Regions from separate parts of the Homo sapiens genome. Here regions 1, 2 and 3 are each reported to be linked to region 4. The links are microRNA targets in miRTarBase. Many come from high-throughput screens and were not tested one by one. Region 4 holds a microRNA gene; each other region holds the end of a gene's coding sequence.
What was found. The annotated mature microRNA hsa-miR-15a-5p reads UAGCAGCACAUAAUGGUUUGUG and lies in region 4 at 1,499-1,520, opposite strand. An mRNA with a match to its seed (bases 2 to 7 or 8) in the 3' UTR can be bound and repressed. Matches are read on the target gene's strand: a 7mer-m8 pairs with bases 2 to 8, a 7mer-A1 pairs with bases 2 to 7 and ends in A, and an 8mer does both.

Region 1 (3,164 bases), not on the chromosome of region 4:
CTGTTGGCCCCAGAATCCTTTCAGAAACCAAGAAATGAGAATATGTCAAGGGTTAAAGGAGGCTTTCACTTCCAGAAATCAGAAGTAAAATAAAGGCTTTTAGAGCCTGAAATTAGCTTTTTGGAAATGATAGGATTATAAAATCACTGGCAAAAGGGTTTAGAACTTGACTGCCCTATAAAGAGTTCTTCCTCTGTGCCATAGGTGGTCAGAATGGCTTCAACATTCCTCAAGTCACCCCATGCCCAGAAGTAGGAGAGTACTTGAAGATGTCTCTGGAAGACCTGCATTCCTTGGACTCCAGGAGAATCCAAGGCTGTGCACGAAGACTGCTTTGTGATGCATATATGTGCATGTACCAGAGTCCAACAATGAGTTTGTACAAATAACTGGGGTCATCGGGAAAGGCAAAGAAACTGAAGGCAGAGTCCTAACGTTGCATCTTATTCGAGCTGGCAGTTCTGTTCACGTCCATTGCCGGCAATGGATGTCTTTGTGGTGATGATCCTTCAGAAAAGGATGCCTCTGTTTAAAAACAAATTGCTTTTGTGTCCCTGAAGTATTTAATAAGAAGCATTTTGCACTCTAGAAAGTATGTTTGTGTTGGTTTTTTAAGAAGTCTAAATGAAGTTATTAATACCTGAAGCTTTAAGTTAAGTGCATTGATCATATGATATTTTTGGAAGCATACAATTTTAATTGTGGAAGTTTAAAGCCTCTTTTAGTCCATTGAGAATGTAAATAAATGTGTCTTCTTTATGGACCAAGGATATGAAATCATTTTTCTTTTGTAGCTAACGGTTGCCTTGAGGAAGAAATAATTTGGTTTTATTAAGAGTCTACTCTCAATCCAGTTATTAGAGATGTACTGAGTTTGATTTGTTAATCCTTTCTATATACTGCTGATCTTGCATGTCTACAATCTGCTCAGTTTTTCTGTGTTTCTGCAATAGTGGTCAGAAAAATACTTAAATTCCCTTAATGGTGTTGTTTTCTATTTGTTCTGGTTTTGAGATAAATGAGTGATTCTGTCCCCAAATGTCCATTTTTGAAGTGATTTTCCTGGAGGATTAGGGTATTTAGCAGTTGAAGCTCTTCATTCATAGTAGTTACTGTCAGCTAACAGGTTTTTTAAGGCTTTTAACTATTAATATTTTATGGAATGGGGCAAAGTAAATTGATGAAAGAATTGGAGTGATAATAGTCCTTTACAAACATACAGTCCATAAGAAAATGAATTTGGCATATAGAATTATTACAATTTCCTGGGAGAGATGGATATTTAAACCTCTATTATTTTAGACAAGACTGTCTAGAACTTAAGTTTGATCTGTCAGCCAGTACTCCCATTAAATTCAGTGTAGTTTCACTTGATAGAATCAGATATGTTATCGAAATGTTAGCAGCAGCTTCATCCTCCTTCTGATTAAAGTAAGTAGAAATGGGATGTTTTGTTTAATAACAGCCATAGTGTGTGTTTAGACCACAGCGGATGTTGTAGACCAGGACCATAGATGATACATGTCAGTGCTGTGGAATGTGCATTCTCTGAGTGTTGTTTTGTGGTATCATTGTCTTTCCTGAATGACTTTCTAACTGTGCAGAAAGGCAGAAAAGTCATCATATGTATATGTCATATGACTTTATAAAATATTTAATGTGACAAAAAGTGGAAAGAATCTTTACAAACCCTGCAATTACTTTTTTAAAGGCACTTTTACTCTTTGGTTTTATCATTCCATTTTGCTAATATTTACTAGCTTTATAAATTACAGTAAGGTACAAAAACTCATCTTGTAATATTTTCATTTTTGAAGTGAAAAAGTACATATATTTTGCACAAGGTTTTATACTGCTAAGTGCTTGGTTGGGGTGGTGAGATGATGATTAGATCAGGGGTGAGGCTGAGAGACTCTGGGTTTAGGGCTAGCCCTGCCTCCATCTCCCTTGGGTAAAATGAAGGGTGTGGGGTAAAAGATGCATAAGGCCTTTTCTAGCTCTGACAGCCTAGAAGTCCAATCACCCTGTAATAAATATGTGTTGAATGAAGAAATGGGTGAATGAGCTTGTCAATGTGATTTTAAAAAATTGACTACCTGGAGGAATGATTAGGAATCTAAATGAAGCCAGCCCTCGGTATCTGCAGGTTTCTCATCCATGGATTCAACCAACTGCAAATGGAAAATACGATTTTTTTTAAAAAAAGGATGGTTACATCCGTATTGAACATGTACAGACTTTTTTCTTGTCATTATTCTCTGAACAATACAAGAACTCTTTATGTAGCATTTACATTTATTAGGTATTATAAGTAATCTAGAGATTATTTAATTAAAATATACAGGAGGATGTGTGTCAGTTATATGCAAATTCTGTACCATTTTGTATCAGGGAATTGAGCATCTTCAGATGTTGGTATCTGCAGGGATCCTGGAACCAAACCCCTGCAGATACTAAGGGCTGACGATCTAGGTAAGACTGGATTTAACAGTTGGAAAAAAAAAAAAAAAAGGAGAGAGAAGACAGTTCCTTTCCTGTAGAAATTAAAACAAAATACAAATTGAGGAAGCTCTGCTACCCAGGCTGTCATGGTAGAGAACTTGAAGAAGACCTGTTTGGATGGACACCTGGTTTCAAAAGTCAGGTGTGGAGACTGTTAAATGGGAGGGCCTCATCCATAAATGATTTCTGGCAACGTCTTCTTCAGGTGGAGCTTGACGTCTTTTTAATGTTACTTGGGGAGGGAGTGCTCATTAAGGGATGCCAGGGCCAGCTCTGGTGGTTCCTGGGGAGGCTGCGTCCTTCCCTGCTTCTGCATGTCATGAGGCAGCAGGAAGGTTTCCCCTGCACCTGTCTGTCCTGGCTCCCTCTGGGTAGCCCCCTACTGTTCTGTGCTTCAGCACAGCCTGGTTTGTCAAGAGGCACATAGTTGGGGCTGGGCTGCATGGCACAGGGGCTTATGTGCCTGCTGGTTATTTAATTTTCAGCCTTAAGTTTTCTTTAATATTTTCCTGTTGGCTATTTAAAGGTTTTGGTTATCTTTTATTCCTTATCTACAATCAAGATGACAATGTAATTGAATTATCTTATTTATAACACGGTTCGTGATTCATGATTCATGATTACAAGTAGAAAATATGTCATGTTCCTCACCTCCAAATAAA
Region 2 (3,164 bases), not on the chromosome of region 4:
TTTTTCTATAACTTTGTTACTTGAAAGACTGCTTTGTGGAAATAAAATCCTTGAATCACATTTCCTTCTTCCTTCAAATCTCTAGAAAATGTTGCTGTCGAGATGAGTTATTTTATCTGTGTTCCATCATCCTTAAGCTTCCTACTCCTCTTCACCAGGAAATAAGTAAGGAAATGAAGTTTAAGCATCCTCCATAGCTTAACCCATACTGTTAGGTGTACGTTATGAATGTTTTTATTTGATGTCATCATAGGGACAGTGTTTTGGAAAGATGCATGGAGATATTCAGATTTACATGTTGGACATCTCTATCTTCTGGGACTAAGGTTTTATGCCCACAAGGAAAGATGGCATGAGGCCCACACATCAGATGATTATTATTTCATAGACTTAAAGATACATCTTCTCTACCCACATTGTAATATCTCTAATATTGGAAGACATCTTACAGCATAATACAGATAGAATTATTTTCTTCTAGTGGTACATAAAAAAAGTACACATGGTACAATTAGTGAAGTACTGAATTTGATGAAATAACTGGTGTATTTTCTGTCCCAACTTGCCCCAAAGCCCTACTTTTCCTGAAGTTAGAATTTAGTCACAGACAATAAAAAGGTGGTGTGGTTCTCTTCTTCCCTGCGGACAGTCCTGCTGAGTGGAAATGGGCTCCCAATGGTCTCTACACTGCTCACCCCAAGCCACTGCCTTTTAAAACACAGATCATTGGTAGAGCACTCTGGAAACTTCTCACTCTGTAAAAGAGGAATTTGTAACTTGGTCCAGATTTGAGATGACTGTACTTTCTCAGCATTTTGCTTCAGTTTGATCCAAATTTTACTGTTTCTAGTAGACATTTCATCGTGGTGTATATTACTGGATTGTGGTCACTCTATAATTTTAACACAAAAATTTTACTTTTGGTTCCTTTCGTTTACAATGTTGGTTTTAAGGACTGAAATAATGTGCCTGATCCGCCATCTTTCCCAGAAACTCCTGATCATATTTTCAAAAAGTTTATTACAAACATTATTTTGATGTTGCTATTTTCACTTAGAAAGTATTCTAAAAGAAGCTGAACAGTTATTTATGAAAATAATGGCCATGATATTTTTGTAGTCCTATGAGGTCAGCAAGAACCTAGGAAACTTCAGATACTATATATTCTTTGGTTGGATGTGAAAAAAGGAACTAAGAAATTTAATTGTTATTTTCTAAAATAAGACCAAACAACAAAGAATACTACCCCAGTGCAAAAAAGTTAAAATTAAGAGACTATTCTGTTGGATATATTACATATGCAAATAGACTAATAATCAGGAATATAGGTTTATTTCATTAAAAAATAAAACAAAACAAACCAGACTCATCCCCCAAAGAGTACTTTATCCTTTAAAGCAGCAGCAATCACAAGGCACATATGTACAAAATACCTCAAGCAAAATAGAAACTGAACATTCAAAAAGTATGTGTTGTTTAAAAAGATGTTGAAGACCATTTGAGTAATAAGCACAGGTTATAAAAATCACAATTTTATTCTTCTACCTTTAACAAGAGAAGGAATGATGGCATAATATTTATATGCTATATTGTGGCACGTATAACAAACCTTTACACCACATAACCTGGTTTGCTAAAGAAAAAACAGGTAAAGTACTGCTTAAAAATGGTATTTTTAGTGCTTTCACATCTTTTGTAGATATCTGGAATTTGTAAGATGAAAAGAAAAATTCTCTTTTTCCTTGGCTTAGTAAAAGCCTGTAGTTACACGTCCCTAGGCAAACCCACCATACAAAAAAGGAATACATTTGAGATATTCTAAAATATAAAGGATATGATTTATATTATGGGATCAACATAATAACCAACTCTCTTCCTAAAACAGATTAGAGGTGAACACATAAGAAATGTAAAGAAAGGTTAATTACATTAAAATAAAATAGCTTCTGATTTAAATTATTGCTCACTTAGGAAGTATAATGAATATTCTCTGGCTAAGGATGCTCAGATTAGAAATGGTGTGACATCAATATTTAGTGTGTACAAAAGTTCTAAGATTCAAATACAATGCAAAGTTTATAATAATCACACAAAAAGTGTTCCTTTTAGCCACCATTTAGCTTCACACAACGAAGACTGGAAAATACGTGGTTTATTTAGATCTTCAATATAAATTTGTACCACATATGTTGAAGTGTTCCTCTTAGCTTTAATGTTGCAGTCATTTTTCTATGAAATACTAAGGAGTTAAGGAGTGCTTACTGAACCATTACTATTAGAGGGAGGGAAGAGACACTGAAGCTCCAGTTTTAAACGACAACAAAAGAATATAAAATACTAGTATAAGAAAACATTTAAATAGTACTAAATGCACAATTTAAACATCAGTTATACACTGTCATTAGTTTTCCTCTTAAAAAAATCAGTTCCTGGGCTTTTAGATGTGTTTTCTTTTTAAAAAAAATAAGCATCCTTCTCATGGTCACACAATTGGTCCATACTGACACCATTTGGTAACAATCCTATCAAAGATCCACATGTTCTTGCTCTCTTTCAGGCCACTCCATGGCCAGCGGGAGTCTTGAGTCCTCTCTGCGTGTTGTGTGGCAGGAGGCCATGGTCCCGGGACTCTGCCTAGAGCAGGACGGCCTGGGCTACCTCCTTGATGGTGGACGCAGCTCTCTCCAGTTCTTCCTCTGTTTGTTCCACCGTGACCACAACCCGAATGCTGAGAACAGTAAAGGACACAAAGAATTATCTTTGTGGGCCAGGCGCAGTGGCTCACGCCTGTAATCCCAGCACTTTGGAGGCCAAGGCAGGTGGATCACGAGGTCAGGAGATCGAGACCATCCTGGCTAACACAGTGAAACCCCATCTCTGCTAAAAATACCAAAAAATTAGCCAGTGTGGTGGCGGGTGCCTGTAGTCCCAGCTACTTGGGAGGCTGAGGCAGGAGAATGGCGTGAACCTGGGAGGCGGAGCTAGCAGTGAGCCGAGATCGCGCCATTGCACTCCAGCCTGGGCAACAGAGTGAGACTCTGTCTCAAAAAAAAAAAAAAACCAAAAACAAACAAACAGAAAAAAGAATTATCTATGTGAGGTGAGGAACTGCACTCACAGTCAACCATATATGGCCTGAGAGCCAAATCCACTGCCTATTTTTG
Region 3 (3,164 bases), not on the chromosome of region 4:
CAGCGTGGGGGCAAGAGGGGGCACATCCTGCTCCTGGCTTGGGGGACGGCCACACACAGGGTCCAGTTTCTGACCTTTGCCCAGTCACCTCAGCACAGGCACCAAGGCACCTGCAGAGCAGCGCCTGGGAGATGGATGGCCCTCGAGAAAACAGAGGAAGCTTTCACAAGTCACTTGATCAGATATTTGAAACGCTGGAGACTAAAAACCCCAGCTGCATGGAAGAGCTGTTCTCAGACGTGGACAGCCCCTACTACGACCTGGACACAGTACTGACAGGCATGATGGGGGGTGCCAGGCCGGGCCCCTGCGAAGGGCTCGAGGGCTTGGCTCCGGCCACCCCAGGCCCTAGCTCCAGCTGCAAGTCCGACCTGGGCGAGCTGGACCACGTGGTGGAGATCCTGGTGGAGACCTGAGCAGGAGCCCTGAGTGCTCACAGCCGCCTCTGACGCATTGACACGTGAGCACTGGCTCCCACGGAGGGTGCGCCTGCCGCCAGCGGCCCAGCCTTGCTGCCCTGTCTGCTGATTCTGAGAAATCCCAGAACAGCCCATTACCAGTGGGGCTGCAGCCCTAGGCCCGTCCCACTCACCTCCCCCCTGTGGAGCGCCAGGCAGAGGCTGTTCTGGAAGGCTTCTTGTCTTCTGACGTCCCCACAGCCCTGGGCCCCTCGTGTCTCTTTGTGTCCCCCACTGTAGAGGACGGTGAGCCGCAGCTGCATCAACCTCCTTTTACCTTTAGATAGGTGAATTTTTACAATTCAGTTTTACATGTTTTGGGCAGTATTTTGTCTTAAGATATATTTTTTAAACTTTTTATACCTTATCTCTTTAGATTTTTTCAGCTATTTTCTTAAAAGTATATTTTTTCTATAAACATCCTTTGCTGCTACATTAGAACTTTTATAGCCTAAACAATTGCAGTTGGTGTGTTTCATTTTTTTAAGGTTTAAATAAGGGTTTTTTGTTTTGTTTTGTTTTTTGCAGTGAGCATCACTACAGTCTCAGTCAACAGTGTGAATGTATCATGTTTTACTTTAAATGTGTGTGTGATACTTCTTCATTATGTCCTGCGCTGCAGTGAGACCTGGGTGAAAATCAGGAGCCGCACACAGCCACATCTTCCTAGACCTAAGAGTAAATTATGGAGGATTTTATTTATGTCTATTTATATGTAAATGTCATTGAAGACAAAGGTCAAATATTTGTCTGTTTGTAGATCACAGGCACCAGTTGGTCTTCAGGGACCTCATAGCCCCTCGGTGGTGCCTTCTCAAGGCAGTGTTCCTGGAGGCTCCCATCAGGGTCAGCCCATGCACCTGCCCTGGGTGAGGAAGTAGCATTGCTGCTGGATGAGAAACGCCTGCGCTGCTCTGTTAGACTGGTGCTGAAACAAAAGGTTAAGGCTAGGTTGAAGTCTAGAATGAAAGAAATCTGAATCCATGTCATTCATAACCCCTTGATCTGTAGTGTCATGGGTGCTGCCGCAGGCAGGGAGTGAGCTGGGGGTGCCTGCAGCCTTCCACTCCTGCCCCGCCTCACCCCACATGCTCCCTGTTTCTCATGCTTTCTCTAACTTCCTCACCCCTTAACCAAAAAGGTGTGTTTTCTTTTGTGCATATAGCCATTCTTAAATATCAGTGATGTAAACCTCACTTTATTAAAAAATTATCCAGCAAACAAAATGGGAATGTGGTGTTAGTTACGACCACGGCCTGACCCTCCAGCAACCTTTCTGCAGGATCAGTTCTGCTGTATTATCTGGTGGTGCTTTCTAAGGTGGGGAAAGGAATTGCACTTGGCTGCATTAAATGGACGCTGGGTTACTTTTATTTCCCCCCCCCACAGGGTTGCAGAGCAAATTCTTTTTACATTGTTCAGCGCCCGGCTGGAGTTGGGGGTGTCCACGACCTCTGACAGCCCCCGATGTCGAAAGTTAATCCTCATGGACCCTAGTTTAAAGGGTATGTGTTTTATAGGAATAAATCTAAAGCACTATTTTGTTTCTGTATAGCATTTTTATCTTTTAGAAACATCATTTGTTCAGCATTAGTAGTAGTTGTAGTGCCTGTTTTGGTAGCCTTCAAAATTATAAACTGCTCAGAGAATGTGACTTTTGAGCGCTTTAGGGGTGCTTGGTCGGAAAACAGACTGGGTCTGTGGAAGGACCACAGACAGGAGAGAACAGCTGCTGTGACTTAGAAGTGTAGCCGGAGTCTCATTCCCTGGACTCGCCGTGTTCACCTGTGACACCGTACACCAAAGCCTGCTTGTTTCCACCGTGGTGCGCAGTGGCTGAGTAATCAGCTGTTTTCCAAGCATCATTTCTCTGCAAGTTTAGTCCGTGTGTGTGGCTTTGTTTTTTTTTGTTTTTTTTTTTTCTTTTTTTTTGATGGAGTCTCGCTCTGTCTCCCAGGCTGGAGTGCAGTGGCGCGATCTTGGCTCACCGCAACCTCTGCCTCCCAGGTTCAAGCGATTCTCCTGCTTCAGCCTCCCAAGTAGCTGGGATTACAGGCACCCACCACTACGCCCAGCTAATTTGGTGTATTTTTAGTAGAGACAGGGTTTCACCGTGTTGCCAGGATGGTCTCGAACTCCTGACCTCATGATTCACCTGCCTCAGCCTCCCAAAATGCTAGGATTACAGGCGTGAGCCACCGCGCCTGGCATTCTTGGTTTTTTGACAGGATTTAACTTTTGTTGCCCAGGCTGGAGTGCAATGGCGTGACCTTGGCTCACTGCAACCTCTGCCTCCCAGGTTCAAGCGATTCTCCTGCCTCAGCCTCCCAAGTAGCTGGGATTACAGGCATGTGCCACCACGCCCGGCTAATTTTTATATTTTTAGTAGAGATGGGGTTTCACCATGTTGATGAGACTGGTCTCGAACTCCCAACCTCAGGTGATCCACCTGCCTCGGCCTCCCAAAGTGCTGGGAATATAGGCGTGAGCCACCGCACCTGGCCATGTATGTGGTATTTTTAAGTCTGTAGGTACAAATTGACTTTAATTGGGAAGAAATTTTCCAAGTGTTTAATAATTTTGTTTACAAAATGTTTATTCAGAAACAGAAATACAAATTCCAGTCATCTAAACTTGGCACTGTTCTCTGCGGTTTGCTTCTGGCCAAACTGAGGGGAGCGGGCATGTTAGTTGACAGTTTCCCAG
Region 4 (3,164 bases):
TATTTTTAGTAGAGATGGGGTTTCACCATGTCGGTCAGGTTGGTCTCGAACTCCTGACCTCACGTCATCCACCCTCCTCGGCCTCCCAAAGTGCTGGGATTACAGGCTTGAGCCACTGTGCCCAGCTCTACTTTTCTTTTCTTTTTTTTTTTTTGTTGAGACAGAGTCTCCCTCTGTCACCCAGGCTGGAGTGCAGTGGTGCGATCTCAGCTCACTGGAAGCTCCGCCTCCCAGGTTCATGCCATTCTCCTGCCTCAGCCTCCCGAGTAGCTGGGACTACAGGCGCCCGCCACCACGCCTGGCTATTTTTTTTGTATTTTTAATAGAGATGGGGTTTCACCGTGTTAGCCAGGATGGTCTTGATCTCCTGACCTGGTGATCCGCCTGCCTCGGCTTCCCAAAGTGCGTGAGCCACCGCACCTGGCTGTCTACTTTTATTTTTAATAAAAAATTTTAAAAATACAAAAAAGTAAAAAAAAAAATTAAATTATGTTGACATTTTATATCAATAAAACTACAATGATAATTTGGTCTTACTCTGAGTTAAATCTTGAATACAAAAAAGTAAACAAAGTAAACAAGACCTTATTTTTGACTTATCAAACAAAAATCTTTGGCTAAGGATTTAAGAAAACATTTTAATAAAAACATGAAAAAAATAGTATACCATTATAAAGTTAGAAGACATAAGACTAAGACCCCAATCTGTGATGTGTAGCAAATTATTTGAGTTTTGTGTTTCCTTAGCTATCCAATGAGTGGGTTGGTCACTTGTAAGGGTTTTTCTACCTTTAAAGTTATGGTTAAGTGTGACGTTTTGACAACCAGAATTTTAGGTATTTAATTCACATATTTTGATGGCTTTTCCCCTTCAGATATAAAGAAATATTCAGAAACAGTACTAAATATTGTCTTCTAAGCTCTGTTCAAAATGCTTAATATATTTTATATTTATCTGTAAAGACATATTTTAAAAGTAATTTCAAAACAAAGGGAAAACTAGAATTTGTTTTATCCCAAGTAAAAATCTGAATTAATGTCTATGTTGAATATAAATGTGCATTAAAATAAATTCCTCTAATGCTGCATAAGCTTTTTAAAAAAACTTGATGGCATTCAATACAATTATTAAATTGCAATTACAGTATTTTAAGAGATGATACATCTGAAAAATTAGTATTAATTCATTTTTACAGAATCATACTAAAAATAACAAGATTATCAATAATACTGAAAAGACTATCAATAAAACTGAAAACACATTAGTAACATTAATATACATTAAAACACAACTGTAGAGTATGGTCAACCTTACTTCAGCAGCACAGTTAATACTGGAGATAATTTTAGAATCTTAACGCCAATATTTACGTGCTGCTAAGGCACTGCTGACATTGCTATCATAAGAGCTATGAATAAAAAGAAATATATTTTCTTCAGAAGATCAGATCCTTGTATTTTTGAGGCAGCACAATATGGCCTGCACCTTTTCAAAATCCACAAACCATTATGTGCTGCTACTTTACTCCAAGGTTTTATTTTTTTTAAACACACATTCGCGCCTAAAGAATATAAAAAATATTTTCTTTCAGGAAAAAAAGAATGCATGTAAAAAAATCTATGTTTAAACATTATAACATTGATGTAATATGCATAATTATTTTTAAGGAGATTTTAAGTAGAATAATAAAACATTTCTACATCAAAAACTTAACTGAAGTCCATTCTGTGCCCAGCACAGTGCTATAGGTTAGGAAACACAAAGAATAAAATGAGGAAAAGAAAAGCATTTATTTGCTATGCCAACTTAACAGGGCAATACAACTAAATGCTTAAACTTTTGAATATATTCAATATATGAAGTTATTTTTCCTTGTATAAACAAACAAGTAAATTTATAAAATTTGATCTTTACCTTGGTAAAAGGAGAATTTACAAACATTTTGTTCCTTGCAGTACACCTTTCAAAAGACATCTTCATCAAATAGGTAAGACTTCACATCAAGGGAAAAACATGAAATGACATACAAGAGCTCAGTTTCAATAAACTTAAGCTAGCAAAATGCAAATATACTTTTAAAGAAAAATACTTTAATTCTAAATGTTAATTTTATTAAATATCTAATTAAGACATTTTAATTCCAAATATAGTTAAGAAAAAAAGCTCTAAACAAACTAATTCTCCCTTAAATAATTTGTTATTAATAATCTAAATATTTTACTTTCAACATTGATCTTCATACTAGAAGTTCTCTTAGAGTTGGATATCATTTGATACAGTAATTCTAAAATATGAATCCTTAAGTAATTCTAAAATATGAATCCTTGGGATGATGAGTTAATTTGGTACCCTGAGATGAGAAATAAAACAAATCCCATAGCTCTTAATCTTCCTATTCCCTGTTTCTGGCCCATTTACCAGGTAAGGAAGAAACTCCTAGTTTCCACTTTCTCAGATGTAGAAATGAAATTCCTTTTCTCTAAAAGATATCAGAAAATTGCCACCACTCTAGTGGTGCCACCATTCAAGCCTGGACAATCTTTTTTGCCCCATGTTCTCATCATTAAAATGACTATGCTAAAGTTACATCTATTACAGAATAGTAAGGTGATGTACACAACCAAAGCACTAAAATTTGCTCTTCCATTCTAATATCTAATTACTTATACAAAGCACAGGGTCACATTCCATATGAAATTTTTCTGAGTATTTTTCCCATTAATAAAAAATATATGTAGCTAATCTCCTATCTAAGCAACCTGGATTTCACATATAACTCTGCTCCTTATTGTCTCAAGTTTCTGCACAACGTTTTTTAAATTTTTATTTTTTCTTTTTTTAAGAGAGTAGTTTCCGTATCTTTTAGAGAAAAAGAAATTCATTTCTACATCTGAGTAAGTGGAAACTTTAGGAGTATACTTCCTTACCTGGTAAATGGACCGGAAATAGGTAGGGAATAGGAAGATCAAGAGCTACAGGATTTGTTTTACTTCTCATCTCAGGGTACTCTGTTGCCCAGGATGGGGTACAGTGCCATGATCGTAGCTCACTGCAGCCTTGACCTCCTGGGCTTAAGTGATCAGTCCACCTTAGCCTCCCAAGTAGCTGGGACTACAAGTGCACACACCACCATGCACAGCTCTTTACATTTTTATTTTATTGT

Region 1: miRTarBase lists CYLD as a target of hsa-miR-15a-5p. The part of its 3' UTR that is shown has no 7-base or 8-base seed match.
Region 2: the mRNA of SPTLC1 is a reported target of hsa-miR-15a-5p. Seed matches in the 3' UTR shown: 7mer-m8 at 1,400-1,406 and 7mer-m8 at 1,397-1,403.
Region 3: miRTarBase lists CDCA4 as a target of hsa-miR-15a-5p. Seed matches in the 3' UTR shown: 8mer at 884-891 and 7mer-m8 at 1,343-1,349.

Annotation. Positions count from the first base shown.
Region 1 is chr16:50,796,120-50,799,283 of GRCh38, forward strand. It overlaps CYLD (CYLD lysine 63 deubiquitinase), which reads left to right. Exons shown (of 19, transcript NM_001378743.1): 19 at 205-3,164. The coding sequence ends at 389. All of the region lies in intron 2 of CYLD-AS2 (CYLD antisense RNA 2), which reads right to left. Among named protein-coding and RNA genes, the nearest start is that of CYLD-AS2, 5.6 kb to the right of the region's middle.
Region 2 is chr9:92,029,831-92,032,994 of GRCh38, forward strand. It overlaps SPTLC1 (serine palmitoyltransferase long chain base subunit 1), which reads right to left. Exons shown (of 15, transcript NM_006415.4): 15 at 1,317-2,728. The coding sequence ends at 2,635. Among named protein-coding and RNA genes, the nearest start is that of ROR2, 81 kb to the left of the region's middle.
Region 3 is chr14:105,008,456-105,011,619 of GRCh38, reverse strand. CDCA4 (cell division cycle associated 4) reads left to right here. Exons shown (of 2, transcript NM_017955.4): 2 at 1-2,047. The coding sequence ends at 416. Among named protein-coding and RNA genes, the nearest start is that of CDCA4, 11 kb to the left of the region's middle.
Region 4 is chr13:50,047,669-50,050,832 of GRCh38, forward strand. MIR15A (microRNA 15a) reads right to left here and starts at 1,533; the gene lies at 1,451-1,533. It overlaps DLEU2 (deleted in lymphocytic leukemia 2), which reads right to left. Exons shown (of 14, transcript NR_152566.1): 6 at 1,916-1,994. MIR16-1 (microRNA 16-1) reads right to left here and starts at 1,393; the gene lies at 1,305-1,393.